Linked DNA regions of Homo sapiens. The protein of the gene in region 1 interacts with the protein of each later gene in a pairwise test. Each region holds a gene or a part of one and is shown in the gene's direction. Other genes may lie near its edges. The genes, in order: EXOC1, NUP54, SRGAP2, SH3BP5, EXOC2, CCHCR1 and TRIO.

The links.
Region 2: the proteins of EXOC1 (region 1) and NUP54 interact in binary tests that used the Homo sapiens proteins (3 or more experiments, as listed by UniProt).
Region 3: the proteins of EXOC1 (region 1) and SRGAP2 interact in a two-hybrid assay, tested with the Homo sapiens proteins (2 studies listed by BioGRID and IntAct).
Region 4: the proteins of EXOC1 (region 1) and SH3BP5 interact in a two-hybrid assay, tested with the Homo sapiens proteins (2 studies listed by BioGRID and IntAct).
Region 5: the proteins of EXOC1 (region 1) and EXOC2 interact in binary tests that used the Homo sapiens proteins (3 or more experiments, as listed by UniProt).
Region 6: the proteins of EXOC1 (region 1) and CCHCR1 interact in binary tests that used the Homo sapiens proteins (3 or more experiments, as listed by UniProt).
Region 7: the proteins of EXOC1 (region 1) and TRIO interact in a two-hybrid assay, tested with the Homo sapiens proteins (2 studies listed by BioGRID and IntAct).

What each region holds. Positions count from the first base shown.
Region 1 is NC_000004.12:55,856,286-55,860,446, forward strand, and holds part of EXOC1 (exocyst complex component 1), read left to right. Parts: intron 1-2,028; 5' UTR 2,029-2,038; coding exon 2,039-2,162; intron 2,163-4,125; coding exon 4,126-4,161.
Region 2 is NC_000004.12:76,131,140-76,135,300, reverse strand, and holds part of NUP54 (nucleoporin p54), read left to right. Parts: intron 1-938; coding exon 939-1,126; intron 1,127-2,581; coding exon 2,582-2,778; intron 2,779-4,016; coding exon 4,017-4,071; intron 4,072-4,161. UniProt on the Homo sapiens protein: Component of the nuclear pore complex, a complex required for the trafficking across the nuclear membrane.
Region 3 is NC_000001.11:206,388,096-206,392,256, forward strand, and holds part of SRGAP2 (SLIT-ROBO Rho GTPase-activating protein 2), read left to right. Parts: intron 1-4,161. UniProt on the Homo sapiens protein: Postsynaptic RAC1 GTPase activating protein (GAP) that plays a key role in neuronal morphogenesis and migration mainly during development of the cerebral cortex. Regulates excitatory and inhibitory synapse maturation and density in cortical pyramidal neurons.
Region 4 is NC_000003.12:15,262,849-15,267,009, reverse strand, and holds part of SH3BP5 (SH3 domain-binding protein 5), read left to right. Parts: intron 1-2,511; exon of another isoform or gene 2,512-2,714; intron 2,715-4,161. UniProt on the Homo sapiens protein: Functions as a guanine nucleotide exchange factor (GEF) with specificity for RAB11A and RAB25. Inhibits the auto- and transphosphorylation activity of BTK. Plays a negative regulatory role in BTK-related cytoplasmic signaling in B-cells.
Region 5 is NC_000006.12:490,252-494,412, reverse strand, and holds part of EXOC2 (exocyst complex component 2), read left to right. Parts: intron 1-3,226; coding exon 3,227-3,288; intron 3,289-4,161. UniProt on the Homo sapiens protein: Component of the exocyst complex involved in the docking of exocytic vesicles with fusion sites on the plasma membrane.
Region 6 is NC_000006.12:31,147,519-31,151,679, reverse strand, and holds part of CCHCR1 (coiled-coil alpha-helical rod protein 1), read left to right. Parts: intron 1-557; coding exon 558-721; intron 722-819; coding exon 820-955; intron 956-1,114; coding exon 1,115-1,225; intron 1,226-1,464; coding exon 1,465-1,614; intron 1,615-2,951; coding exon 2,952-3,062; intron 3,063-3,168; coding exon 3,169-3,275; intron 3,276-4,161. UniProt on the Homo sapiens protein: May be a regulator of keratinocyte proliferation or differentiation.
Region 7 is NC_000005.10:14,503,342-14,506,841, forward strand, and holds part of TRIO (triple functional domain protein), read left to right. Parts: intron 1-1,051; coding exon 1,052-1,252; intron 1,253-3,500. UniProt on the Homo sapiens protein: Guanine nucleotide exchange factor (GEF) for RHOA and RAC1 GTPases. Involved in coordinating actin remodeling, which is necessary for cell migration and growth. Plays a key role in the regulation of neurite outgrowth and lamellipodia formation.

The sequences.
Region 1 (4,161 bases):
GAAATAATTGTAGGGGATAGTTTAGGTATAGGGAAATGAGCACTGTCTCCAGGCTAGGTTGGAAAAGAAGTAAACTTGGAGAGGCCAGATTAAGAGAACAGAAAGAAGGGCAATGTCAGAAGACTAGAGGCTGAGATGAAGTGGAAGTGGGAAGATGTGAATTTTATGAGAAAAGCAATTTTTGGAATTGGAGCAGAGATAGAAGTTTTACAGATTGAGTAAAATATTGGAAAGACTTGTTTTACAAAATAGTCATTGTGCTATAAAAATACGTTGTAAATCATTTATTTAAAAATCATGATTTCTTCATTTTCCCATAGAAAGAAATAGTGTTTTAGAAGTTAGTGTCCTAGGCAAGCTCACATGTATGAAATACTACACATTTGCATTGAAAAATTGTAATACATATCCACACAAATATGTATATGAAAAATAAAATAGAGATTTAAAATTATTTTAAGTTGATGTTTGAAAAGATGCTGAGTTAGATAAGAAAAAGGAGATAAGTGGAAACCTATTTTTATAACAGTTTTATTGAGATTATGTATCATAAAATTTACCCTTTTCAATTGTATAATTGAGTGATTTTTGGCATATTCACAAGGTTGTATAACCATCATTACTATCTAGTTGAAAGACATTGTCATCACCCCAAAAAAGAAACTCCATACCCATTAACAGTCAATCCTCGTTTCCACCTTCCCTTCCAGCTCCCGAAAACCACTTATATTTCTGTATCTATGGATTTTCCTACTCTGGATATTTCATATAAATGGAATCATACAATACGTGGTCTTTTGTGGCTGACTCCTTTCACTTAGCATAATCTTTTCAAGATTCATCAATATTTTAGCATGTTTCATTACTTCATTTCCTTTTTTTCTTTTTTTTTTTTTTTTTTTTTTTTTTTGGAGACAGAGTCTGGCTCTGTCTCCCAGGCTGTAGTGCAGTGGCGCAGTCTCGGCTCACTGCAAGCTCCGCCTCCCGAGTTCATGCCATTCTCCTGCCTCAGCCTCTCCCAGTAGCTGGGACTACAGGCACCCACCACCATGCCCGGCTAATTTTTTTGTATTTTTAGTAGAGACGGGGTTTCACCGTGGTCTCGATCTCCTGACCTCTTGATCCGCCCGCCTCGGCCTCCCAAAGAGCTGGGATTACAAGCGTGAGCCACCGCCCGTGCCCGGCCCTTTGTTTTTTTTGCAGCCGAATAATAATCCATTGTATGGATATACCACATTTTGCTTATGTATCATTTGATGGACATTTCTGTTATTTCCATTTTTTGGCTATTGCAAATAGTGCTACCATGAACATTCATGTACAAATTTTTGTGTGGACATATGTTTTCAGTTCTCCTGGAGTGGAATTGTTGGATTATAAGGTAGCCCATGTTTCACTTTATGAGGAGTCACCAAGCTGTTTTCCAAAGTGGCTGCACCATTTTACAATCCCACCAGCAATGTATGAGAGTTCTGTTTCCTCTCATCTTCACCAACACTTGTTACACCAACACTTGTTATTTTCTATCGTTTTTATTTTAACCACCCTCATGGGTGTAAAGTGGTTGATACCTCATTGTGGTTTTGATTTGCATTTCCCTAGTGGCCAGTGATGTTAAGCATGTTTTCATATGCTTATTGGCCATTTGTATATCTTTGGAAAAATGTCTGTTCAGGTCTTTTATTCAGTTTTTAATGGGGTTATTTGTCTTCTTATTGTTGTAAGGGTTCTTTATGTAGAAAACTATATTAAAAGTTTGAGCAGTGGGTTGAAGATTTTTTTCTTAAATCTTGTGTGTGTGTGTATACTTGGTGAGCATTTCCAAACATTTTAGAGTTTGATAACACTGGTTCTCTAATTTTATTTCCAAACTTACAGCTTTGTATTTTTGTGATATAGGTGTATTCATATATTAAATCATTTTTCCTAGGCTTGTTAACCAAAAATTATTTTCAAATCATAAATTCAGAAGTATAAGATGGAATGATGTTGAGGGTGAGCTTAATATCTATACTCCACATTTTTCAGCTGAGAAAAGATGACAGCAATCAAGCATGCATTACAAAGAGACATTTTTACACCAAATGATGAACGCCTGCTGAGCATTGTGAATGTCTGCAAAGCAGGAAAAAAGAAAAAGAACTGTTTTTTATGTGCCACAGGTGGGTATTTAGTAAGAAAGAGTACTTGTTTTGTATCCTTTTATTATTTAGAAGATATTTCCTCTTTGTTTTGAATATCCTCATTGTCTCTGTAATTGGAAAAATTGTTGGGTCAACACATTCCTAGTTAACACTTGGCTTTGACAGGCTGTTAATTGTTGTCAATCTGGTGGCAGTGAAATAGTATCTCATTGTGGTTTTAAATTATATTTCCCTATAATGATGAGATTGAGCATCTTCTCATGAATTTCTTAGTCATTTCATTCTGTTGTGTATGAAATTTACCTGTTTAAGCCTTTTACTCATTTTTCTGTTGTGTTGCTTGTCCTTTTACTGATTTGTACAAGTTCTTTCTATAATCTGGTTATCAACCTTTTGTTGGTTGTATGCATCCCAGTTAGTGGCTTGTCTTTTCACTTTTTATGATGCCTGTTAATGAAATTTATAATTTAAACTAAATGAAATTAATTAATCCTTTATGGCTTTCCCTTTTGGTGTCTTAAAAGATCCTTCCCTGTATCTTTTGTGCAGTCATAAAAATATTTTCCTAAATTCAAAAGTTTTATAATTTTGCCTTTTACAGTTTAGTCTTAGTTCACCTGTGTTGACATCTGTCATGGTGTGTGTGAGCATTTCTGGTTGTCATCTTATATGTTATTTTTATTTTGTTTTTGTTCTTTATTCCACCTAAATTTTAGAAACAACTTGTCGAGTTTCAGACTTTGTTGGGATTTTGATTGGAATTGTTTTGAACCTATAGTTCAATTTGGAGAGAACTTGCATTTTTATTGTATTGAATCTTTGTGTCCATGAACATGGTACAGTTCTCTATTTATCTAGGTGTTTTTTAACTTTATAAGTTTCATCATTTTCTCTAAAGGTTTGTCATGTATATTCTTGGATTTACTCCTGAGTATTGGTTTATTCTTAGATTTTATTTGATAGTCGTGAAAGCGCTTATTAACATTAATACATTTTAAAATCATATATTGTTAGAATTCTACAATGAATTGTTGGTGTTTTATATGGATGTCTATCAATCTTGCCAAACTTTCTTATTAATTCTAATTATATGTAGACTTTTTGAAAGTAGTGATATTTTTCTTCCTTCCTTTATAGTTTTTATATCTTTTATTTTTGTTGGTTTAGTTTCCTAGTTAGGACTATCAATACAGTCTCCATCTCAAGGAGAATGACTTCATTTTCAAGCATGGTATTTGGTATAGGGTTTTTATAGCTATACTTTACAGTGTTAAGTAAGTTCCCTTCTATTCCTGGTTTCTTACACTTTTTTAAAAAATCATGAATGGGAGTTGAATTTTATCAACTGCTTTTTCATATCATTGATATCATAAAATTTTCTTCCTTGTTAGTGTAGTATATAATTGTACTTGGTTTTTGAAATGATAAATTGACTTTTTAGAATGACCTCACTCAATCGTAATGTATTTGTATTAGGCCATTCTTGCATTGCTATAAAGAAATTCTTAGGCCAGGAGCAGTGGCTCATGCCTGTAATTCCAGCACTTAGGGAAGCTGAGGTGGGCAGATCGCTGGAGCCCAGGAGTTTAATTAAGACCAGCCTGGGCAACATAGTAAGAACTTTATATATAAATGTATTGTTGCTCTTTGAAATGGTATTTTGCTCTTTCAAGCCTCACAGACTTTACTTATGTCAATCATTCTTTAGATTTTTACCTCATACTTTTCTTTAAAACTGGTCTGAATTTATTATTAATATATCATTCCTTTATTTTTCAAGGAATCTCCTCTGATCTTCTAGTCTGACTTAGATGCTTCTATTAGGATTCTGTGCTTTCCTCGGTCATAGCACTTGTTGCAAAGTATTACACCTCTTTTAGTATCAGCTACTAGGCACCTGAAAGCTATACTTGCAATGAGTGAATGAAGAATGAGTGAAAGGGGTAATATTTCTAATAAAAGTGTGCGTTTTACTCAACAGTGACAACTGAACGCCCTGTGCAGGTTAAGGTGGTCA
Region 2 (4,161 bases), about 20 Mb from region 1:
GTGAAAAGGGATAAAAGGCTTCTATCTAAAAGAGCAATTATTTAGAAAAGTATAATTGGTCATATTAATATGTAAAAAAACAACAACCCTGTTTCATAAAGTTTTGTATTATATAAACCAATAAAGTGATACAGACATTCTTTATAGTATTTGTAAGTTGACTGTCATTACTGTGATTTAAAAGTATTTATTTGTAAATTACTTCTTTATATATTTAAAACTTAGTTTAAGATTCCATGAATCAGATATACAGATACTCCTCAACTTATTATGGGTTACATCCCAATAAACCCATCATAATTGAAAATATTGTAATTCAGAAATGCATTTAATACACCTAACCTACCAAGCATCATAGCCTAGCCTAGCCTACTTTAAACATGCTCAGAACACTTACATTAGTGTACAATTGGGCAGAATAATCTAACATCAAGTCCATCTTATAATAATAATAATTTTATAATAAAAACTAAAAGATCAGAATTCCATGTATGGTTTACATGTATGTATATATGAATGCGTATTGCTTTCACACCCTATAAAATGGAAAAATCATAAGTTGAGAATCTGTATAGTGAAATAAATTATAATTAGTTGGTGATTTTTGCAGTCACTTTTATAATGACATGCAGATGGTTCAGAAACAACCAACAATAATGAATATCAAAATTTTTTAGGGGAGAAAGCTGTTTAGTTACTCTCTCAAAGAGGAAATGTTAATCTTACTCTATAGGTTAATGTTATTCCTGGGTAAAATAGTTTTTCTTTATAATTTTGTGACCTCCTAGGGCACAAAATGGTGGGAAGAATCATTATTCCCTTAATTACCAGACATTAAGTTGTTTTTCCCATTTTAGCAGATATTAAGCTATTAATATTAAACACCTGATTTAAGATCTGTACATATTTTTTATATTGTTTATTTTGTCATTCCACAGGCAGTAGGTTATAGTTGCATGCCCAGTAATAAAGATGAAGATGGGCTAGTGGTTTTAGTTTTCAACAAAAAAGAAACAGAGATTCGAAGCCAACAACAACAGTTGGTAGAATCATTGCATAAAGTTTTGGGAGGAAACCAGACCCTTACTGTAAATGTAGAGGGCACTAAAACATTGCCAGATGATCAGTAAGTATACATAAATATACTGTTTATTTCTGTGTATTTATTTCTGGTCCTAAGGGAGTGATCAATAATGTTTTTGTTGCTAAAGCACAAATTAACTCTCAGAGCAGAATGCCTTTTCTCAGCTAGTGATTATTCAGTATTGATAAAAACATTTATTTAAAAGTTTTTTTAAAATTTTGGATTTTTTAACTTACTAGATGCTAATAATTTTCTAGATTTTCATTCAGGCCAGGAAGGGACCATTTGTCATAGATGCGTGCAAATTGAGGGCCATAAAGATGTTATTGGAAAATGTTATTAACTCATTACTGTTCATGTTCATTCATGAATAAATATTATTGCTTTACTTCCCTTGACCTAAGTATAATTCTCAGTGTTAGTGGCAAGACATTTATTTTAGGATATTTGGAGGAATGATTATTAATGAGATGCAATAATTGAACAGATTTTACTTGTGGTTGTAATTGCAGAGAAGCAGCCCATAAATTTCAACAGAATTTCCTATAGTAAATAACATTTACATAGGATTTTGCAACTAAGCAAACCCTTTTATAAATATTATCTTATTGGCCGGGCACGGTGGCTCACGCCTGTAATCCCAGCACTTTGGGAGGCCGAGACGGGCGGATCATGAGGTCAGGAGATCGAGGCCATCCTGGCTGACACGGTGAAACCCTGTCTCTACTAAAAATACAAAAAAAATCAGCCGGGCGTGGTGGCAGGTGCCTGTAGTCCCAGCTACGAGGGAGGCTGAGGCAGGAGAGTGGCATGAACCCAGGAGGCGGAGCTTGCAGTGAGCCAAGATTGAGCCACTGAACTCCAGCCTGAGGGACAGAGAGAGACTCCGTCTCAAAAAAAAAAACAAATACTATCTTATTTACCTGGTTCTTTTTAACTTTATCATTTAGGTTGATTTGTAAATGAACATTACATGAAGTAAAACTTTCTTATTTTCCAAGATTTAAGAAGAAAACAGTTGGGCACAGCAGCTCATCATACCTGTAATCCCAGAACTTTGGGAGGTCAAGGTGGGAGGATTGCTTGAGACCAGGAGTTTGAGACTAGCCTAGGCAACATAGCGAGTGTCCGTCTCTCAAAAAAATTTAAAAATATATATATATATATATCATATATATTTATGTATAGACACACATACATGTAAGCTAAACGTAGCGGGTGTGCAGCTGTACTCTCAGTTACTTGGAGGCTGAGGTGGGAGAATTGCTTAAGCCTGGGACATTGAGGCTGCAGTGATGATACCACTGCACTCCAGCCTGGGCAACAGAGCAAACCTTGCTCAAAAAAAAAAAAAAAGGAAACATTTTAATTGCCTCCTAAAACAACCATTTCTGAATTCAACTTAAACCCTTCTGAAATCACATGCTATGATATGCTGAGGTTTGTCGCTATGAGTTTTGTGCTCCATATTTTATAAATTGGTTATTCTTCCTTCAGGACAGAAGTTGTTATTTATGTTGTTGAGCGTTCGCCAAATGGTACTTCAAGAAGAGTTCCAGCTACAACGCTATATGCCCATTTTGAACAAGCCAATATAAAAACACAATTGCAGCAACTTGGTGTAACCCTTTCTATGACTAGAACAGAACTTTCTCCTGCACAGATCAAACAGCTTTTACAGAATCCTCCTGCTGGTATGTTTCTAGAATCACAGAGTTCAAAAAAAAAGAAAGATTTAGAACTAAACACTCCCCGTATTTCAGAGGTGTTGGTTGGTTATTAATGCTAATAAAATTAGTATCATCTTGTCATATATCTACTTATTTGGGAAATAGTTTTGAATATTTGTATTCATTTAGTTTTTTATTATATAGCTAATATGTATATGTTAAAATAGAAATTTTGAGAAATAGTGAACTGAAGAAAAATAGTCCATAATCCATCTACCCAAAGGTAATTTACTAGTAAAATTTTGGCTTATTTTTTTCTAGCTTATCTCATTTTAACTGAATATTCAAGTAAAACCTGAATGTATTCTAACTGTAAAATATTCTGGATGGCATAACTAGATTGACTATGTGATAGATTACCTTTAGTTCCTTTCCCCGGAAGTAACTACTGTCAATTTATGGTACTATGTTTAATCCTTTATCTGTGATTTGAAATGTAAGCATATTTACATGTAGATCTTTTAAAAAAGGATTCTCCATATACACCTTCAGCTTGCCTTTTTACAGTATTCCTTAGCACTTTTCATGTCAATACATGAAGATAAATCTTACTGTATTTAAACATTGCATAGTATTCCATGGATACACCTTTACTTAACACCTCTAAGTTGTTTTCTTTTTACTATTATAAACTGTACAGTAATTAACAATATCCTTGTAAACATGTCTTAGAACACATTGGTATATATTTCTTTAGAATAGATCTCTGGTAATGAAATTTTTGAGTCAATATTATGTATGTTAGATATTGCCAAATTGCCCTCCAGGGAAAGTTCTACCGTTTATATTCATAACAGGAATGTTATTTTTTCTGGCCACTGATGGCAAAATAATTAATTTAAAAATTAATACTTATTTTTAATATGTTTATTAGCTACATTTATATTTTTTGTGAGTTACCTATTTGTGTCCTTTGCCCATTTTCTAGATTTTTTTGTCTTCCTTTTTGATGTATAGGAACTCTTTCTATATTCTGGAGGTTAATCTATTATCCTATAGGTTATAGATAGTTCCTTTCAATCTGTGCTTTTTTTGAACTTTATTTATTCTGCAAAAATTTGTATTTTTACCATGATTATATTTGACAGTCACTTTTCATTATAGCTTCTAGGTATAGGGTCTTGCTTTAGGAAAGCCTTTGTCATACACATATTATAAAAATAGAAAATTGTTTTAGAAAAAATATTTTTTATTTGTGGTAGGTGTTGATCCTATTATCTGGGAACAGGCCAAGGTAGATAACCCTGATTCTGAAAAGTAAGTATGTCTTCATCTTGTTTCATTTAAGAACTAATATTTGCTACTAGGAAAGCAAACATGGGAGCTATTAATTATAATTCTTACATA
Region 3 (4,161 bases), on another chromosome or scaffold:
CATGGAGGCACTGAAGCCAGTGTGGATTGGCTGAGTATGAAGAGTCAAGGAAGCTCTAGAATTGAGAAAAAAGAGGCTTTGGGACACTTTGGGGCTGTTGTTATTCCAGAGGCCTTATGCTTCTGTACTCCCCCTAAATTTACATCCCCTTGGCTTGGAGCAGCGGCTGTGTGCTGGCAGAGCTACTTCAGACTGGTATTTAGCACCTGTTCCCTTGAAACAATGGCACTTAATAGTCTCTCAACTCTGCTTGCCTATTTGACTCTGGCACTAGGCACTAGGGAGACAAGAACAAATAAGAGATGTTTCTGACCTCAAGGCGTTTAGTTTTAATAGGGAGAGACAGAAAAGTAAAGCATCAAGTGAAAAATGAAGTGACAAGAACTCATTTACATGTCTGCACAGAGGACAGGGATGAAGTCAGGCTCCTTGAAGAGATACTTGAATTGAATCTTTATTGCCAAGAACTCTTTTCTTGTTCTCTACATGTTCCCTTTTTTGTTGCATCCAACTTTTGTTTCATGATGCAGTATCGTTTTATTTCTCATTTATCTCTCCAGGGCTATTATGGATATATTGTTTTCAAACTTTTCTTCTTGTTGTATAATATTTCTTCTAAATTGCTAGTTTTGGTCTTGGTCTTTCATATTAGACATTTCCTTTAAATGCCTGGTCATTCTTAGCTGCCTATTCACATTTTAAAGTGAGGCACTAAAAGATTCTATGTCAGCTGTGGCCTTCACAGTAGGGTGTTCTAACTGGGCTGTGTCCTTGTGGAAGCCCCAACTTTAGTATTTCTAGGTCTCTTATCTTGGATGGTCAGATTGCCGAGAGATCACACTTTTGATCTCCCACTCATGTCTGGGAGCTGAGTTGTGAAGAGGCCTAGACCATCTCAAAATTTAACATAGACTTCAGCTAATCCTCCTGTTGAAGTTCAGTATACCCCTATCCTCAGCTGAACCTTGTATCCCCTAGTCCATGGACCCTCTCTAACAGAATAAACCTCTCATCTAGTCTTCCACTACAATGGGAGGGGGATCTTGGGGCCTCACTGTTCTCAGACTTCCTTTTTTTTTTTTTTTTTTTTTTTTTTTGAGATGGAGTCTTGCTCTGTTGCCCAGGCTGGAGTGCAGTGGCGTGATCTCGGCTCACTGCAAGCTCCACCTCCCAGGTTCATGCCATTCTCCTGCCTCAGCCTCCCGAGTAGCTGGGACTACAGGCACCCGCCACCACGCCCAGTTAATTTATTTTTGTATTTTTAGTAGAGGCGGGGTTTCATCGTGTTAGCCAGGATGGTCTCAATCTCCTGACCTCGTGATCCGCCCGCCTGGGCCTCCCAAAGTGCTGGGATTACAGGCATGAGCCGCCATGCCCGGCCTGTTCTCAGACTTTCAATAGCTTATTTTGTGTTTAGCTCTACCTTCATCCCACTGCTACTTATTTCTCTTCGGGCTTCTGTGATATAAATCTGGCTGCTTCCTGGCTCACTCTAGTTTTGGTTTAGGACTCAAGTAGATGAGTTACTGTTTGCCTACCTGCTTTTCGGCTTCAGCTTCCATTCTTTTTGTTTTTCTCAATTTATACCTAAATGATAATCATTTTAGAACCTTTTTTTTCCTATTATTTTAGTGTGGCTGTCAGAGGGAGCAGAGCTAAATATGTGACTTCAGTGTTTAGTTTTTCAAAGTAAAGTGGAATGTTCTTTGCAGAACTGAGAATTTAGACTTTTCAGTTTTTCCCCATAGTTTGCATTTGCCTATCTATATATAGATAGAAGTATGTATATGTATATCTTTATGTATACATATCTATATATACATATATGTGTAGCTATATGTCTAAGACATAGATATATAGATATACATACATTTACATATGTATATGTACATAGATATATATATCTAAGTCCTATCTTGGCTTTCTCTAAGTCCTATCTTGACTATAAATATATATTTATAAATATATATTTAACATGTATATCTGTATCTATATACATTTCTAAGTCCTGTCTTGACTTTCCTATTTTTTCAATTGTTTTGGCATCACTTATTTAAGCTTCAGCTTCTAGGTACCTCAGTTTTCTCTTGAGCTGGAAGGCACTAATAAAGCTTCTCCAGTATTTACCCAGAAGAGAGATTCAGTGTCATTCAGTCATTTGGGCAACCACTTTGTAAAACTACCATTGTGTATATGACATATTTCTCCACTGTGAGAAGAAAACACAAAAGAAGTAGAGCTTAGCGTGAAGAATGTATAGTTTCTTAGGCAAAGTAGCGTTTTACTCTCTTTTAACAAGAAAGTTCTTTAAGTTTTTTAGGGGAAAGTAACATTGTAAATTGTTGATTTTTGTTACTTCATTTGTTGACTTGGTAGCGCTATTCTTTGACCCCTTTTTTATCTCATGTTTATTCATAACGTTTTCTCTTTATCATGCACCTTCATGAAATAGGAAATCACTTTAAAAAAGAAAAAAAGCACTCACTTTTGTAACTTCTCACTAAGCTTTTGAATCCCATGGTCAGATTCAGGTGAAAAAAGAGAAAAAAAAGAGGAGCCTCCTATCTACACTTCTTCAGCTGAGATAACAGATGCCTCTTTTCCACTTCTTAGTTAACCTGGAAAGCTGGGGGTCTGTTTGAATTACTTAGAAAGGCTTTTAAACGCCATTAGTTGTTAAGTATTTTTTCTTCTGTATAGAAAATATGAAGAGTATTATCCTGGTAAAATTTACGGGAAGTAGTGTTAGGTTCAGAATGAGGTGAAACTGATTTAAAACATTCTGCATTCAAAATGAGACATAATTTAGACTCTAATGTACTTTGATTTTGTCAGTGTCCCAGTATTCTTTATTCTTTCATCTGCCTCTAGCTGATCGTAGGGGCTAGATTAGTATACCCACAAAGTCTTTCTAAGCTAGATTTTCTCAGCGTCAGCACCATTGACATTTGGGCCAGATAATTAGTTGTTGTGGGGGCTGTCCTGTGCATGGGATGTTCAGCAGCATCCCTGACCTCTAACTACTAGATGCCAGTAGCAATCCCCAAGTTGTGACAATCAAAAATATTTCCAGACACTGCCACATTTCCCCTGGGGGCCAAAATAGCCCCAGGTTGAGACACTTCTCTAACTCAGGTTCATACATGGAACCAGTTTCTCTTTTCAGGAATATCTTGACCATATTTAACCTTTCCTCCCAACCAGTTCAGCTCCAGTCCTATCCAGAGGAGAGTCGGTGTTGCTTAATGGCTAAGAATGTGGTCTTTGGAGTCTGACAGACCTGGGTTTGAATCCTGATTCCACCATTTACTCATTGTATGACCTTGGGTATGATAGTTAATCTCTCTGAGCCTTATTTCCTTATCTTTAGAAATAGAAATAATAACAGTGTCTTTCACAGAGTTATTGTAAGAATTAAATGAGGTAATGTACGTAAAGCCCATGGTACACAATGTTTATTAAGTGGTAGATATTAATAATAATATTGTACCTTTGCACTCCTGTGTTACACACACACATGCACACACACACACACACACACACACATGCACACACACACCCAACTTCTACTCTCTAATTCTCCATCTCAAAGAAATCTTATGGCATCACACTTTCAGCACTCGTGAACTCCCTGTGTGGAAACAGAAAGTTCCCACAGAGTAGAGCAGGCACTAGGTGGCTGGAAGTAGTATGTTTAGTAGGATTGGAAACAAGCTTGAGTTCTAGGCTTCCTGGCCTCCCTGTTAAGAGAAAGGATTGGACTCCTAGATGGTTGCTTTGATGGAAAATCATCCTTCACCTTTTATACTACTTCCCTCCTGTGGCAATTCCAGTTATACTTGATATGGATTTTATTCCTTCCCAGACTCTTACCTGAATTGTTTTGAAGGCTTACAGTCTTCATAGGGTTGTTGTCTAGATTGTGGAATTGTCCTAAGGATGAAATGAGAAAATGTGTTGTGTGGTACTTGGCATAAAGCCAGGAATATACTAAGTGCTCAGTAAATGATAACTGGCATTGCAGTTGCTGTGAGAGGGTGTTTGATCTGGATAAAGCAGAACAGACAGATCCCCAGAATGCCAGGCCGGTAAAAGGAGCTTTTGGAAGCTTTTCCTCTTCCCTATTTTATATCTGAAAGGTAACAGAAAGCATAGGCTACT
Region 4 (4,161 bases), on another chromosome or scaffold:
ATAAAAGAAAATTCCGTGCTCAGAAAGGCCCAGGGCTGTCTTGAAGAAATGGCAGTGGCTTGGACTACACGATCCCTCCAGGCACAGCGGGACACTGGGGTTCCCACGTAACGTGCCCAAGATTATCTATGCGGCCCCTCACACTTCCTGTGGTGACATCAGGCAGCCACACTTGGAGCCATGGCTGAAGCCGATATACTAGGAGGTGGCAGCAGCCCTGGTGTGCTCTGTTAGGCCACATGCAGTGGCACAGACAGGGACAAAGGATCAGTTTTCTGCTTAGTGCTGGGGTTGATGAGGACTCTGGAAAATACAAGTAGCTTGTGGCAGAGCTGCCAACCTTGTAGTTGAGCAGCCTTCCTTGGGGCACAGGGCCTGGGGTCCCTGCTGCTCTCCAGCTGGGGAGCTTGGGCAGCATAGGACCCCTTCAGCCTCAGCTGTTTTGGCACTGAAGTAGCCTTTATGGGAAGGTGATAGCTTTTCATCCTCTGAGAGAGGAGGGCTGGCATCCTGGGAGGGAGAAATTGGCTTTTCTGATGTCTGCTGAAAGAGCTCAGACAGAGGAAGAGGGAAATGTGACTTGGAAATGAGAGGCACGAACTGTTTCTGAACTAGCCCCAGGTGGCTGCTGGAGAGGACACGACGCAGGGCCAGCCCTTCTCCTGGTTCACAGTGGATATGAGCCTGGGATGGCAGGTGAGGAGCTGCTCACGACAGCCTCCCTGACGTTGGTGGGTGTGAACCGCCTCCCTTCCACACAGTGGGAAGAAGCGCCTTCTTAGGTCTCATTGCCCAAGGACGCAGTAAGAATCAGGAAACAGTCTGAAACAGTCAGAATGGAGGTTCTCAGCAGACAGTGAGATTGCCTCCCTGGGCAAAGAGGCTCCTGACCGCCCCTCTGTGATGTTGGAAGAGATGTTGGGAGTGTAACTGAGGGTGCAAAGGCCCTGGAGATTGGAGAGTCGAGAAAGCTGTAACAGGAGGCTGAGGAGCTGTGCCTGGTGGATGTCTACTAAGCCGGTTGGGCCATTCTGCTGGTGTGGGACCCCGCGAAGAGGCTGGCCAAGCCAGATTGAAACACCCAATCAGTGCCCAGTGGTGCCCATGCGGGAAGGTGCCGGGTGTTTGCTATTTTCTGTGGGCTGATATGAGCAGGGTCCGGGGCTGAGCAGTATCTCTGTGGTCCCTGGATCTTCAGCATCTCCGGAGTATGCTGCTCCGGAGTATGGGGTGCAGTTTGCCACACCTACCCCTGAGCCGCTCTCCTCCTTACTTATCCCACCACACCTGACCCACATCACTGCACACAGCTCATGCCTGATGCTAGGCTGTAGATAGAGGAGCTCCTTGATTACCTAGGAGACATAACCAAGGCGACATGCTTAGTGACCTTCTTCCTCAAGGCAGGAAGCTGAGTTGTGTGGAGGTCTCTTCCAGGAGCTGGAGGGTTGTGTGTGTGTGTGTGTGTGTGTGTGTGTGTGTGTGTGTGTGTGTGTGACGGAGTCTCGCCCTGTAGCTCAGGCTGGAGTGCAGCGGCGCGATCTTGGCTCATTGCAACCTCCACCTCCCAGGTTCAAGCTTTTCTCCTGCCTCAGCCTCCTGAGGAGCTGGGACTACAGGCACCAACCACCACACCCAGCTAATTTTTGTATTTTTAGTAGAGACGTGGTTTCACCATGTTGGCCAGGTTGGTCTTGAACTCCTGACCTCAAGTGATCTGCCCGCCTTGGCCTCCCAAAGTGCTGGGATTACAGGCATGAGCCCCATCGCACCTGGCTGCCCTGGAGGTTTTGTATATATATGAGAAGTGGGGAGATAGGGACAGGATGTGGTAGACGTGGCCTGGTGGGGCGAAGCAGGGGACAGTGATGTGCTGGCCACTTCTTCAGTTTTCACTGCCAGTATTGCCATGGGCTCGGAGCTTTCCAAGTGTTTTATTGTAGAAAGCCTGTGCTTCTGCTTGCAGCCTAGAGGCCAAGATAGAATGAGGGCCTGTGTGCAGATGGTGAGAATCCTGCTTCTTACAGGGGACTCTTTCTGTACAGGACCCTCAAATTACAGGTTCTACAAGTCTGTTGAAAATGCATTCTGACAGCTCCTTAAAGGTAAACCTTTAATTGGATCTTTTTGTAATAAAACAATCACCCCCAACATGTTGTCTTTGATGAACCTGAAGGTTTGAGTTTTCATAAAGGTTATACCAGTAAATCCTTAAAGCTTAAGATTTACTGCTGTTTCCCCAAGTATCAAGCATGAGATATTTTTAGTGCATTTTGTTTCCTTGTGAAATATCTGGTTTTGGAAGCAAAGGGAAAGGATTCTCTTAGCCCTTTGGTCTTGGTTGAGAAGTCATGTGAGCAAGCATGTCTCCTCGTGCCAGCTTAGCTCAGTTCTCTCCTATTTTTCTTCTCTGATTTTGTTGTTTTTCTGTTTTTAAAAATTATCTGAAGCACTGAAGCCTTTGTTAAAAGATATTTTTAAGAAGGTAAAAGCATAATTGGGATACAAATATAAAATTTTCTCGTGTCAAATATTTTATTTCTCTCATTAAATAAGGAGGGATCTAACAGTGATGTTACAATTCTTGAATTCAAAAAATACAAACTCATAGAAAACCAAGAGTGCCTCAATGAATTACCAACAGATGCAAAATGGACTATTACAAGGGCAGTCAGTAATCCACTGCATCTGTGACACAGTTCATCTTCATTTCTCTGGAAAAAAAAAAAAACCATTTGTATTACTGTCAGTTTTCTACAACTTACAGGGTTGTAAAACAGCTTCAAGACAAAGTCAGAGATAGCCTGGAAGGGTGCCCTAGACAGGACACCCTGTAATTTTTAATGCCCATATAAAAGTCTTTCATAATTTTTCATGGTACCTTTAAAAATCCTTATCGTAAGTAATAAGTAAACTATCCTAGGGCTGATTGTGGCTGTTGACTGGAGGAGATGGTAGAACATTGGCAACCTTCCTCTGTGGCCTTCTTTTTTAACTGTGAACTAAAGACATGGTGGTACCTCCCTAAAATTGTTCTACGGGGTCTGAGAGAGCTGACTAGTGACCATGAGCCCTCTGGGCTCCTCTCGGATGCTCCCCAGAGAATACAGAATTAGAGAATAACCCTTTAGCCTAACCTCTACTGTCTCTCCGGTTTATTTTATAACACTGAGTGGTAGGCAGAAGACAGGGAAAGAAATCGCAAGCTGCTTATGTGGCCTGAACTGCGGTTTGTTTCCCTCCTCTTTCTTCAAGGCAGGCCTTGTTCTGATGCTTTTCTGTAGGTAAGCAAGGAGAGAATTAACATTGCCCATGTCTCTGGGACTGGGCCTGTGAGCTGCTTTTGTTTTTTGGCCATTGAGGGCCCTTGAGTATTGGTTTTGTAACTCATTTTTTTCAACAGACTTAACAAAGTGTTCCCACCAGAATTTCCCACCAGAACTTTGACTTGTCTTCTGCTCACAAATGTTTGTGTACCTCAAAATCTGATGTGAATGACTGGGTTTTAATTTAATTGCTTAAATGTAAAGTTTGCCCTTTCTGGATCCTGAGTTCTTCTGTGCACAGCCAACTAGTTCAGAATATTTGGGAAAGGACCAAACAATGGAAGTCATGGCTGCTTTGCTGGCTTGACTGCCATCGTGCCTGGCACGATGCCTAGTTCTTGGTTTTGGTGGTCTCCCCATTAGGTTCCCCATCTCTTAGGTTCCCACTGCTGCTATTTGGCCATTTGCCTGCCCATCAGGCCCCTGCCCCAAGGTGTGAACGGGAGGAGGTCTAGGTGGCTACTTAGATCGAGGAACCTGAGAAGAAAGTGGACAGCTGTTGAATCAGAAAATAGTTCAAAATTTTCTGGTTTTTGTTTTTCCATTTTCTTTCTCAGTCATTGCCACAGCCAATTTAGCTATTTAATCTTTCCTCACAAGGCTTTTTCAAAATAGATAAATAGGAAAAGAAAACCACTGTTGGGAAGTTGGTTTATTCTTAGTCTGACCACTAATTTGCTCAAATATATATCTAGATATAGATATCTATATATACATATATATTTTGAGATGGAGTCTTGCTGTGCTGCCCAGGATGGAGTGCAGTGGCGTGATCTCGGCTTACTGCAACCTTCATCTCCTGGGTTCAGGTGATTCTCCTGCCTCAGCCTTTCAA
Region 5 (4,161 bases), on another chromosome or scaffold:
ATATGCACACTGAAGTGGATCAGAACTACAGGACTGAGTGACGGATGGAAGCCATGTGGTCATGTGAGGCTGTGTTACTGGGAGAGCCTGTGAGTAAACAGGCATTCACTGTAAAGTTCTTTCAGAGCCTCCATACATTTGAAATTTTTTCAAAATACATATTTGGGAAAGAAAAAGAGCAGAGAGCACTTGTTAATTTGGTTAGGGGAGAATCTGTTGCAAAAGCTTCTGCTGTGTTTCCATTTGCCACCAGTTTTCTCTGAAAATTGATGTATCAGATCTTTGATATTATCGTTTAAGTTGAAAGGTCATGGTTATTATAATAGTTCCATCACAGGAGATGAGTAGTATAAACTGTGTAATACTACAGATGAATTAACAGGCAGTCGCAGTCGCTACTGTGGGCCTTAGCAGTCTTAGAATTTTAACAGGCATCCGCCCTCTCTACACATTACCTCCGTAATCCATTTATCTGATGGCTAAACCACTCTCAAAACCAGCAGGGAGAGGTTGGAAAGTGATCTCAGAATTAGCTGGAAAATTTTTTCACGTACACATGTCCAGAAACTACTGGCCATCAAACTGTTCCAGCCTCCAGTTTTTGAGACCTCCTCGGGCCTGGACAGACATGTGTATTTTGAAAAAGGTCGTGAGTCTAAACTCCCGCTTCACTCTCCCACTGAGAATGACTTTGAGAGCTTCCTTCCTTGAGGCCATAGCTCTAAGAGGGATAGCAGGTTAACCTTTGATAGGCAATTAGGTGCCAAACTCCAGAACTGTCCTGAGAGCTTGGTGAAAAGGGGAGTGACAGTTTGGTGATTTTGGCAGATCTTTTAGCATGATGTTTTCTGGATTACAGTTTTGTAGGTATTATATAGCTAACCACAGTTTTTATAATTGGCATAACTTACAGGTTAATTAAAACACTCTATCACCTTGATTGAATAAAATTTCTACCAGAAGATTGGTTTTGTAGTAATTTAATCTTTCTCCTAAAATGGTCAGCTGAAAGTTCTACCTTTTTTCCTGGTAGGTCTGTTTTTACCTATACTAGAATATAAACAAAATAGAGACAGAAATTGTCATACTTTCTAGCATTTGTAACTTTCTAGTTATATACTGTTTTTCAGGCTTCTAAGGGACTGAAAAAATGAAACCAAACAATTGCCTTCCAAACAGAAAAAGGTCACTGAATATCCTGTGTCATATATATCTGCTTTGATCTAGATGGCTTACAGAATTTCTAATAAACTGTGAAGAGCTGGCTGTGTCTTTTGTCATTGTTTTATGTTTTGTCCACTCCTTGAGAATAAGGGATATTTCTTTTAAATGTTCTCCTGTGTGTCCCACTCACTGTGGGCACCTACTTCAGAACATCAAGTTATCATTGTCAGTGGGTCTGCTGGAGCTCCCAGGAAACTGACTTGTATGTCAGATCACACTTATTCATGCTTGCGTAGAAGTGAAAGCTTAACTTTTTTCTTAAAACTTTTATGAAATATTTCACATAGCATACGATCTGTCTACAATAGAAAAAGAATATGCAATTCAATGATTTTTGGTATATTCAAAGAGCTGTCCAGTCATCACCATCATCAATTTTAGAACATTTCATCCCAAAAGAAACCCCTGACCCATTAAGTCTAATCATTTGCCTCCCAAACCACCCTTTCCCCCTACAGACAACTACCAATTGGCTTTCTATCTCTATGATTTGTCTACTCTGAAAATTTCGTATAAATGGAAACATGAAAATATGACCCTTTGTGACTGGCTTCTTTCATGTAGCGTAATGTTTCAGGGTTCATCCATGTTGTGACATATGCCAGTGCCTCGCTTCTTTTTACATATAATATTCCACTTTAAATATGCCACATTTTATTTATCCATTCATCAGCTGATGGGCATTTGTGGTTTTCCCACCTTTGATTAATATGCAGAATGCTTCTGTGAACACTCCTATACAAGTTCTTGTGTGGACATGTGTTTTCATGTCTCGTGCGTGCATACCAAGGAGCGGAATTGCTAGGTCATGTGGTTACTCTATACTTAATCTTCTGAGGAACTGCCAGACGGTTCTCCAAAGTGGCAGACATTCCTACCAGCAATTTTTGAGGGTTCCAATGTCTCTACATCCTCACCATTATTTGTTATTGTCTCTTATTGATTATAGCCATCCTAGTGGGTGTGAAGTGATACCTCATTCTGTGGGTCGTCCTTTCACATTCTGGATGGTGTCTTTGTAGCACTGGATTTTTAATTTTGGTGAAGTCCACTTTATCTGTTTTGTTGTTTATACTTTCGGCATGATTTCTAAGAAGGGTTTCCTAGCCTAAGGTCACAAAGATTTACACTGGGTTTCTTCTGATAGTTTCATAAGTTTCTTACATTTAGATCTGTGATCCGTGTTAATTTTTGTGTTAAGGAAAGGATTCAACTTCATTCTTCTGCATGTGGATATCCAGTTGCCCTAGCACCATTTGTTGAACAGACTGTTCTTCCCCCACTGAGTGGTCTTGGCACCCTTGTTGAATAGCAGTTGATCATAAATATGAGGGTATACAATATTTAAATATATTTTAGCTTTGGAGTATGGCTGAAGTCAGAAAGTCTGAGGCCTCTAAATGTGTTACTCTAAGATTGTTTTGGCTGTTCTGAGTGCCTTGCATTTCCTTATGAATTTTACAATCAGCTTGCCAGTTTCCATTAAGGAAAAAAAAAGCAGCTGTGATTTTAATAGAGATTGCATTGAATCCATAGAGCAGAGTTTAGGTTTTGAGATTAAGGCAGTGTGCCTGCAAGGGCATAGGTGTCAGGAAGCATGCCAAGCCACATCCTTACCTCTGTGGGACACGGGCCCTTTCAGGGCAGTGTTTCAAAGTGTCTTTCCTCTTGCAAGACTAAAAGAAAAATTAGTGGTTAGAGAGTAAATACAGATGGCTGGAAAATCATGACACAGTTTGTACTTTTCATAGTGAGATATCTAGTTCCCTGCCCTCACACAGTCATCCTTGACTACAAGTTAATTTTCAGTCAACGAACATTTTGTGGTAGCAAATTTCTTCGGACTGTTTTAGAAACTCTACTCATGACTGGCGGTCACCATGGTGGTATTACGCCAACCCCATCCTACGATGAGCAGGCTGGAGACCCTTAACCTTAGTACTTGTTTATATTTGATAATATAAATTTTCCTGTTGTCACTTTGTCTTTTTCTCATTTTCAGGCGAGACTTGAAATCTGTGCTTTGAGGGACACTGTGGCTGTTTACCTGACACCCGAAAGCAAGTAAGTGGCAGTGTTCTTTAGTTGAGTGCTCTATTAAAAATAAAGGTTGTCTTACTAGTCAATTCTGTCCTCTGTAAAGATGACTGATCAGAGCACATGCTCATGAATTTGTGATGTGATAAAGTTTATGTCAAGGCCACTTTGTAACACAATGTAAATGAAAGGGGTTTAATATAATTTTTTCATTTACTACTGACAAATCTTAGTCTTATAATACAGCAGAGTATGACATACTTCTTAAAGCAAAAGAGGATAAGAACTGAGTCTTAGTCTGTTCATAGCAGACTCTGAAGGACAGCTCAAGTGCTGTAAATATCAGTATAAGAGGAAGCCTTGTGGTTTCTCTGCAAAATTTTGTAGTGGAAATTTGATAATTTTTAGCTGTTTTGAATGAAAGTCAGGATTTCCTACCATTGAAATATCAGTAGGTGAAGTGAAGCAGAACTACTGTTTGTCTGTGCAAAATTGTTTACTACGTGGGCAACATTACCTAGGAAATACTGGGTTATAGTGTTGATGTGCCTGAGAAGCCAAGTCGTATGCAAATGAAATGTTTGAGGACACTGTAATATGCTTACTCACTCATTTCCAGCATCTGATAACATGGCTTGCTGTCATTCTGTCAGCTTTGCAACTGAAAATACGTTTTCCATTTTTTCCTAACCAATGAAGTTAGCCTTTCATTCCCGTCGGTCACAGCTCACCAGCAGCCATTTTTAGTGGGCCATGTTCACTGTTGAGCCACACCTTTTCCCAGCCATCGTTTGTCTGTACAACATACTAACAGGATGGAAAGCACCCAGCCCATGTTGGATGTGTGCACACTTCATGCAAATGCCTACCCTCTTCCTGCTGACTTAGTTTTAGAGTATA
Region 6 (4,161 bases), on another chromosome or scaffold:
ACAGCTGATGGGGCAGAGTAGGGTGGGGAGGGACGGTATTAGAGGGCCCAGTGAAGCCACCCTGAGGAGGGGCTATCGCCTGGGGTCTGTGGAGCAAGGAGGGGCCGCTGTCTGGTTCTCAGCAGACTCCCCGTGGCCGGAGCGGGGAGCAGTGGGAGAGCCTCCAGGGTGAGCTCAGGAGGTAGGCAGAGGCCGGGTCCCCTGGCCTGCAGGTGTGGAGAGACACCTGGGTTTTGTTGTGAATGCTGTGAGAAGCCACTGAGGGTTTGTAAAGACTAGTTAGGAGATGGTCGCTGTTGCCCAGGCAAAAGATGAGGGTTGGTGGCAGTGGAGACGGAGACAGAGAGGTGAAGATATGTTTTGGGGGAGATCGGACAAGAACTCCTGATGGGTTGTGGGGCAGCTGCGGAGAGTGAGTTGCCAGCTCTCCATTTGCTGTGCACAGTTGGCTGATTGGTTGGGTCATTCTCTAAGGTCACAGAAAGTGGGAGTGAAGGGAACAAGGAAGGCCTCCATGTGGGGTCGAGCCTCTGCTGAGCCCCCTCTTCTTTCCGCAGCTGTCCTCTTTGACACAGGCTCACGAGGAGGCTCTTTCCAGTTTGACCAGCAAGGCTGAGGGCTTGGAGAAGTCTCTGAGTAGTCTGGAAACCAGAAGAGCAGGGGAAGCCAAGGAGCTGGCCGAGGCTCAGAGGGAGGCCGAGCTGCTTCGGAAGCAGCTGAGGTAGGTGGGCGGACGCCGACGGGAGCCCAGCAATTAGTGATGTGGTGGATCTGCAGGGCGCCCCACTGATGGCTGTCCCATTCCCACCCCAACCCTAGCAAGACCCAGGAAGACTTGGAGGCTCAGGTGACCCTGGTTGAGAATCTAAGAAAATATGTTGGGGAACAAGTGCCTTCTGAGGTCCACAGCCAGACATGGGAACTGGAGCGACAGAAGCTTCTGGAAACCATGCAGGTGAGGGTGCAGGAATGTATCTGTGTGCAGACTTAGGGATCAGGTTGGGAGGCAAGCGTGGCCCTTGGAGGAGCGTGTAGAGCACAGCCTCCGGGAGAGAAGGTGGTACCTAAGGCGGCATGGAGGCCCTACAGAGGGGCTGCTTTCCTCTGCCCGCAGCACTTGCAGGAGGACCGGGACAGCCTGCATGCCACCGCGGAGCTGCTGCAGGTGCGGGTGCAGAGCCTCACACACATCCTCGCCCTGCAGGAGGAGGAGCTGACCAGGAAGGTACAGCCCAACCCCCAGACCCCTCACCCTCAGCCGCATCCTGCATCTACTGTCCCCTGCCTCCCTCCCTGTGGGCAGGAGGGGTCAATGTGCCCCAGAACCTGCTTAGATCTCCTTCCTGTGAACTCCTCTTGCTGTAGCTCATGTTGCCCAGGCAGGACAGAGGAGAAACAAAGATGCCACCTCCTTCCTCTCCTCCCCCAGGAGCCCACACTTTTCTCCCACTCCTTCTCCCTCAGGTTCAACCTTCAGATTCCCTGGAGCCTGAGTTTACCAGGAAGTGCCAGTCCCTGCTGAACCGCTGGCGGGAGAAGGTGTTTGCCCTCATGGTGCAGCTAAAGGCCCAGGAGCTGGAACACAGTGACTCTGTTAAGCAGCTGAAGGGACAGGTCACTGCACTCTCTTTTCTCCCGGTATTCCCTCCCAGCACCTTGCTCCTTCCATGAAGGTGGCATCCATTCAACCAGTGTTTATTGAGTGGTTGCCACATGCTGGGCACACAGCCCTGAACAAAACTAAAATGTGGAGCTTGCATTCTAGAACAGAGACACAGAACACGCAAGTAAACAGATAATGTTGGGTAATTATATGTGCGATAGAAAGATTGAAGCCAGGTGCAGTGGCTCACACCTATAATGCGATCACTTTGGTCTTGAACTCCTGACCTCAGGTGATTCACCTGCCTCAGCCTCCCAAAGTGATGGGATTACAGGTGTGAGCCACCGTGCCCAGTCAAGTAATGCCAACAGTTTGGGAGACCGAGGCAGGTGGATCACTGGAGGTCAGGAGTTCGAGACCAGCCTGGGCAACATGTGAAATCCCGTCTCTACTAAAAATACAAAAAATTAGCCGGTCATAGTGGCTCATTCCTGTAGTCCCAGCTACTCTGGAGGATGAGGTGGGAGGATCACCTGAGGCTGGGAGGTCGAGGCGAGGCCACAGTGAACTGTGATCCCATCACTGCACTCTAGCCTGGGTGACAAAGCGAGATCTTTTCTCAAAAAAAAAGAAAGTAGTAAGAAAAATTCAAAAGATAATGTGACGGAGAGACTGTGGGGTGAGTCAGCCTCAGGTAGGATGCTCAGAGACAGCCTCTCTGAGGAGGTGACAGCATCTGAGGAGAGTGGCATGGTCAGTTGGTGGGTCTTGTGGGGTGGGTCAAGGGCTATTCCCATCTTTGAGTGGGCACATGGAATGTGGAACATGGAACACTGGGCTCAGATTCCATCCTCAGAACCTAAGCTTCTGTCTCCCTGCGTGGCATTCATTCTTTTTCTTTTCTTTTTTTTTTTTTTTTTTTTTTGAGAAGGAGTCTTGTTCTTGTCACCAGGCTGGAGTGCAGTGGCCTGATCTCAGCTCACTGCAACCTCCGCCTCCCAGGTTCAAGTGATTCTCCTGCCTCAGCCTCCCGAGTAGCTGGGATTACAGGCACATGCCATCACGCTCAGCTAATTTTTGTATTTTTAGTAGAGACAGGCTTTCACCATGTTGGTCAGGCTGATCTTGAACCCCTGACCTCAAGTGATCCATCTGCCTCGGCCTCCCAAAGTGCTGGGATTACAGGTGTGAGCCACCGTGCTGCAACCCACCCCCGTCGCCCGCCCCCCCTCCCCCCAGCCCCTGCATGGCATTCTTACAGAGATCTCTGCACCTGCCACTTTGCTTCCAGTGCCCCCCTCATCTTTTAGCTCTAGAGGGCCCTGCCTAGCTCTCTCTCCTCCCCCAGGTGGCCTCACTCCAGGAAAAAGTGACATCCCAGAGCCAGGAGCAGGCCATCCTGCAGCGATCCCTGCAGGACAAAGCCGCAGAGGTGGAGGTGGAGCGTATGGGTGCCAAGGTTGGTGTCAGCCTACTAGAGACTCGGGGAGGGCAAGGGAGCCCCTGTTCCGGGGCTGCAGCCAGGACTTAGGGAGGGACCCTGTCCTTTGCTGCATCCTCCCCAGGGCCTGCAGTTGGAGCTGAGCCGTGCTCAGGAGGCCAGGCGTCGGTGGCAGCAGCAGACAGCCTCAGCCGAGGAGCAGCTGAGGCTTGTGGTCAATGCTGTCAGCAGGTATCAGGGATGGAGGGGTGGGTGGAGTAGTGTTTCTGCCACCTCAGGTTCCTGGGCACCTTGTTGCTGAGGATCCTCAGGCAAGAGGGGCTGGAAAGTGGCCACTGGAGGCTACAGGGCTGGGCAGATTTAGCTCTATCAATGTTCCTGTGTTCGTTTCTTTTCCTGGGGAAGCCCCTTCTGCATTCATACCTGATTGCTTGTTATGAATTTCCCGTTGCATGTTTGGCTGGAGGTGAGGCCTTGCTTCCTCCTGCAGTTCAGTCTAGTAATGGCTTGAGCTAAATAGAGCACCCGGGAGGATCTTTACTTGCAGTATTGTTCAAGGATGGAGAGTGTAGACACTTCATCTTCCTTTTTTTTTCTAAAATTTTACGGGCAATCCGTTTCACTGGAGAAAAATTTAGTCTATTTATTTATTTATTTTGAGACAAAGTCTCGCTCTGTCACCCAGGCTGGAGTGCAATGGCGCAATCTTGGCTCACTGCAACCTCACCTCCCTGGTTCAAGTGATTCTCCTGCCTCAGCCTCCCGAGTAGCTGGATTACAGGCATCCTCCACCAGTGTCCTCCACTACACCCGGCTAATTTTTGCATTTTTAGTAGGGACGGGGTTTCACCATGTTGGCCAGGCTGGTCTTGAACTCCTGACCTCAGGTGATCCACCCACCTCAGCCTCCCAAAGTGCTGGAATTATAGGTGTGAGCCACTGCACCTGGCCTAGTCTATTTATTTAAAGCTATATACTTACTTGCTTATTATATACTTAACTTGCTTACTATTCCATCTAAAATGTAAGCCAGTTAGTTTCCTTCTAAATCAATTGCCAGCCTTTGTCTCTCCTACCAACTTCCTAGTTGTTTCATTACCTACAATTGTTGTATGAC
Region 7 (3,500 bases), on another chromosome or scaffold:
GCTCCTGTTGCTGTCTCTGTCAGCTGTCTGTGGCTGCATAAAAAGTCACACCAGCACATGCTGTCTTAGGACAGTGGTGACATGTGCCTTCTTCCAGTGCAGTGGGCAGATGGGACCATTATTCTGTTGGCCTCTCCTGGCCTGGTCAGCTGGTGCACCATGCCCCATGCGTGTCAGAGGCGTTGTCTGGGACACTGGCCTCTTTCCACATCGACTTTCACCCTGGGCTCCCCCACGTGAGGGCAGTGGCATCCCAGAACAGCAGGAGCAGGAGCGTCAAGGCCTCTGAAGGCCCAGCCTCAGAACGACCAACGTCCTCCACATCCTGTGGGCCAGAGCCAGCCCCAGGCAGCCCTGATTCAAGGGGACGAATAGCCCCCGCCTCCGAGTGACAGAAGTAGCAAAACCGTGGCCTTTAACCACACAGTCTGCCCGCCACAGGCGCATCTCTGGTCCTCACATGTGCAGAATGCACTCACCCACCTCAGGCCCCCAGCCCAGGCCCCCACCTGAGGTCCAAGGCCTCGTCCAGATCGCGTTGAGTTGTGGCCAGTCCCCAGGAGTGGGTCATCAGGGGCAGCTCCAGGGTCCTCGTGCCTGCCCCACACACCCCCACAGGGGCGAGGCTGAGGCAGTGACCACAGCAGACGCACCTTTCAAACGTGCAGGGAAAGGTGGCTGACGGGAGGCGTGAGCAGCCATCCCAGCTTCTGCTCGTCGTGGGAAGCAGAAGGGAGTCGCCCGGCAAGGCCAAGGCTCAGAGGTCTTCCTCTGTCACTTCCACCACACGCAGTGCTGGGAAAGCAGCCACCGACGTGAGGAGACCAAGGCTGCCTGGGAGGAAGGACCAGCAGAACCGCGTGGCTGCGGGGACAAGGGCAGATTTGGGGGACAGCCATGGCACCACAGCCCCTCCGTGGAGTGGCCGGGAGAGCAGGGCCTCTGGACAGGGCTGGGCCACCACACAGCCAGTCCATTTAGGATAACAGAGTCTTTCTCGGTGCCAGACCTCAGCAGCCTCTGCAAATGGTCCCCCTGACATATTTTACAGGGGCAGATTCTCTGTCGTTAAGAAATGTGATCAGAAAGGAACCAAGCGAGCAGTGGCCACTAAGTTTGTGAACAAGAAGTTGATGAAGCGCGACCAGGTCACCCATGAGCTTGGCATCCTGCAGAGCCTCCAGCACCCCCTGCTTGTCGGCCTCCTCGACACCTTTGAGACCCCCACCAGCTACATCCTGGTCTTAGAAATGTGCGTACACACCTGGCCTTCCCTCTGCCCAGCCCTCTGCCTCCACCTCAGGGGGTTTTGTTGTTCCTGTTTGTTCTCTAAGAAGGATAGAAATTGGGTTTGTAGAATTTACAGAACTAAAAAACATCTTCACTGTCAGAGCCCGCAGTTTTCAAGCCTTCCAGTAATGGCAGAAAGCAGTGTGGTCTTCCACAGGGCGGTTGCCTGATGAAGGGCAGTCACTGCTGGGATGGAACACCTGATATGCTCAGCCAACCCGGAGATGCACCCCCCCCACCCCTTTTCTGAAGGTCCCATGAGGCCAGGCTGTCTCTGGTGCTGAACCCAAGCCCCCATTAGTGGTTGGAGGCTGACCTGATACCCCAAGCCTGTGCAGGGCCAGCTCACCCCGGATCAGCGGGGTGCCCCTCAGGCCTCCTGCCAAGTGAAGGCCAGTTGGATGGGAGGGTAAGACGCACCTCCCCGCAGAATGTCCTCCGAAGAGGGGGCGCGGGCACACCAACCAGAGCTGCCCCTCTGGTCCCCGTTGTACTTACTGGGCTCCTGTGTAAGATCAGAAAATAATTTAGTCACGTCAAGAAAAGAGTTTGAAACCTGTGTCCCACAGGAGCGGTTCTCATCTAGGGGTGGGTTCTCGTGGAAATGTCAGGAGAGCTCAGGCTGGGGGTGAGTCCGGCAGGGAGCGGCCGGAGGCCAGGGATGCCACCCAACCTCCTGCAAGGCAGGGACAACCCCCATGGATTCATCCACCCCAAACATCTGTGCATTTAGCTTTGAAAAATGTCGATTCCTCCTTTTTAGGGGGAGTCATTTTATACATTTACTTGCATTTACAGCTGCTTTTCCATGGGGAAGGGTAAAACCTTTTGTCACCATTTGGGAAGTTTGCATAGCTTCTTCAGTGGGAAGGATAGGATTAGCAGGGCGCCCCCATGGGGTCATGTAGGGGCAGACTCAAGCTCGGGGCCCCTCGCCGGCAGGAACTCCCTCCAGGCCCTGTACCTGATGTTGTAGTTATTGTCATTTTTTTCTTAAAGAAACTATAAATGCCTCCCCATACCCTTCCTAGGGCAAGGCTGCCACAGCGTCCCACATGGCCCCACATGCAGCCTTACCAGCTTCCTCGGGCCGCCCATGTGCCATGGGTGACAGTGGGTGTCTCAGGAAGGCCTCCCACCCATGGCTGCACAGCTAGAACCTCCCCCAGCACATGGGGACGTGCTTCCAGCCCGTCTTTCAAGAATAGAAAACACATCTCATGGCAGAAGGGCAGACGGTGGGGCGCAGTGAGGCTGAGCAGTGTGTATGGAGAGGAGGTCCACTGGCCTCGCCTGGCCTCAGTCCCCGCCCTCCCTCTCATCGGCTCATTTCTCACCCTGGTGTCCTTAAAAGTCACACTGGCTTTGGAGGGTTGTCGTGGGGCCGAGATGGGGCGATGTGTGTGGAAGAGCCGAGCCGACATCCAAGCCGAGGCCTGGCCTGGGAGCCTCAGGACCCGGGAGGTCTCCTTTCTGGCTCCAGACGCTGGTGACCAATGGCCACTGCTCACCTTCCCTGGGGAGTTTTAACAAAACTGTGGCTTGAGTGCTTGTCACAAATCTCCTAAAGGCCTTCGTTTCTGGACTGACATTTCAGTGCTTTCAGCTGTCATTTCTGGGAAACAAAATGGTTTGGCCTCACCATCCTGTTAATAGGATCCGTTTTCATGACAGATTACTCCTGTTCTCACCGGCGACTCCCCATTGCTAGACAGGCAGCTGATCTTCCTACAGATTTCTGTTTTGCAAAGAGAGCAGCATAGGCCGGTGTTGAGAGAGGTGGGGGCCAGACCACCTCAGTCCAATCCTGGCTTCTCCACTCTGGAGCTGTGGGACCTTGGGAACGTTTCATGCTTTCTCTGTCCTGAGTTTCCTCGTGTATCAAATGGGTACACTAAGGCCCACTTCACAGAGAGTCATAAGGATTAAATGAGTTGTTAGAAGGCATTGAGCCCCTGGCACTTGGCAGTGCTGGGTAAGTGTTTTTTTAGTATGAACAGTAGTTTCAGAGGAGGAAGTCTTCTGAGTCCAACACTGAGCACTCAGTGTGTCACCTCCTGCCCAGCCTGTGGTTACATGATCTCGGTGAGTCTTCCCGTGGCCCATTCTACAGGTGAGGAAACTACAGCTCCGAGAAGCATGAGCTACTTGCCTTCCTTCAGCAGATACCGCAGGATGCCTGCTGCACCTGGCACTGCCGGCAGCCGGGC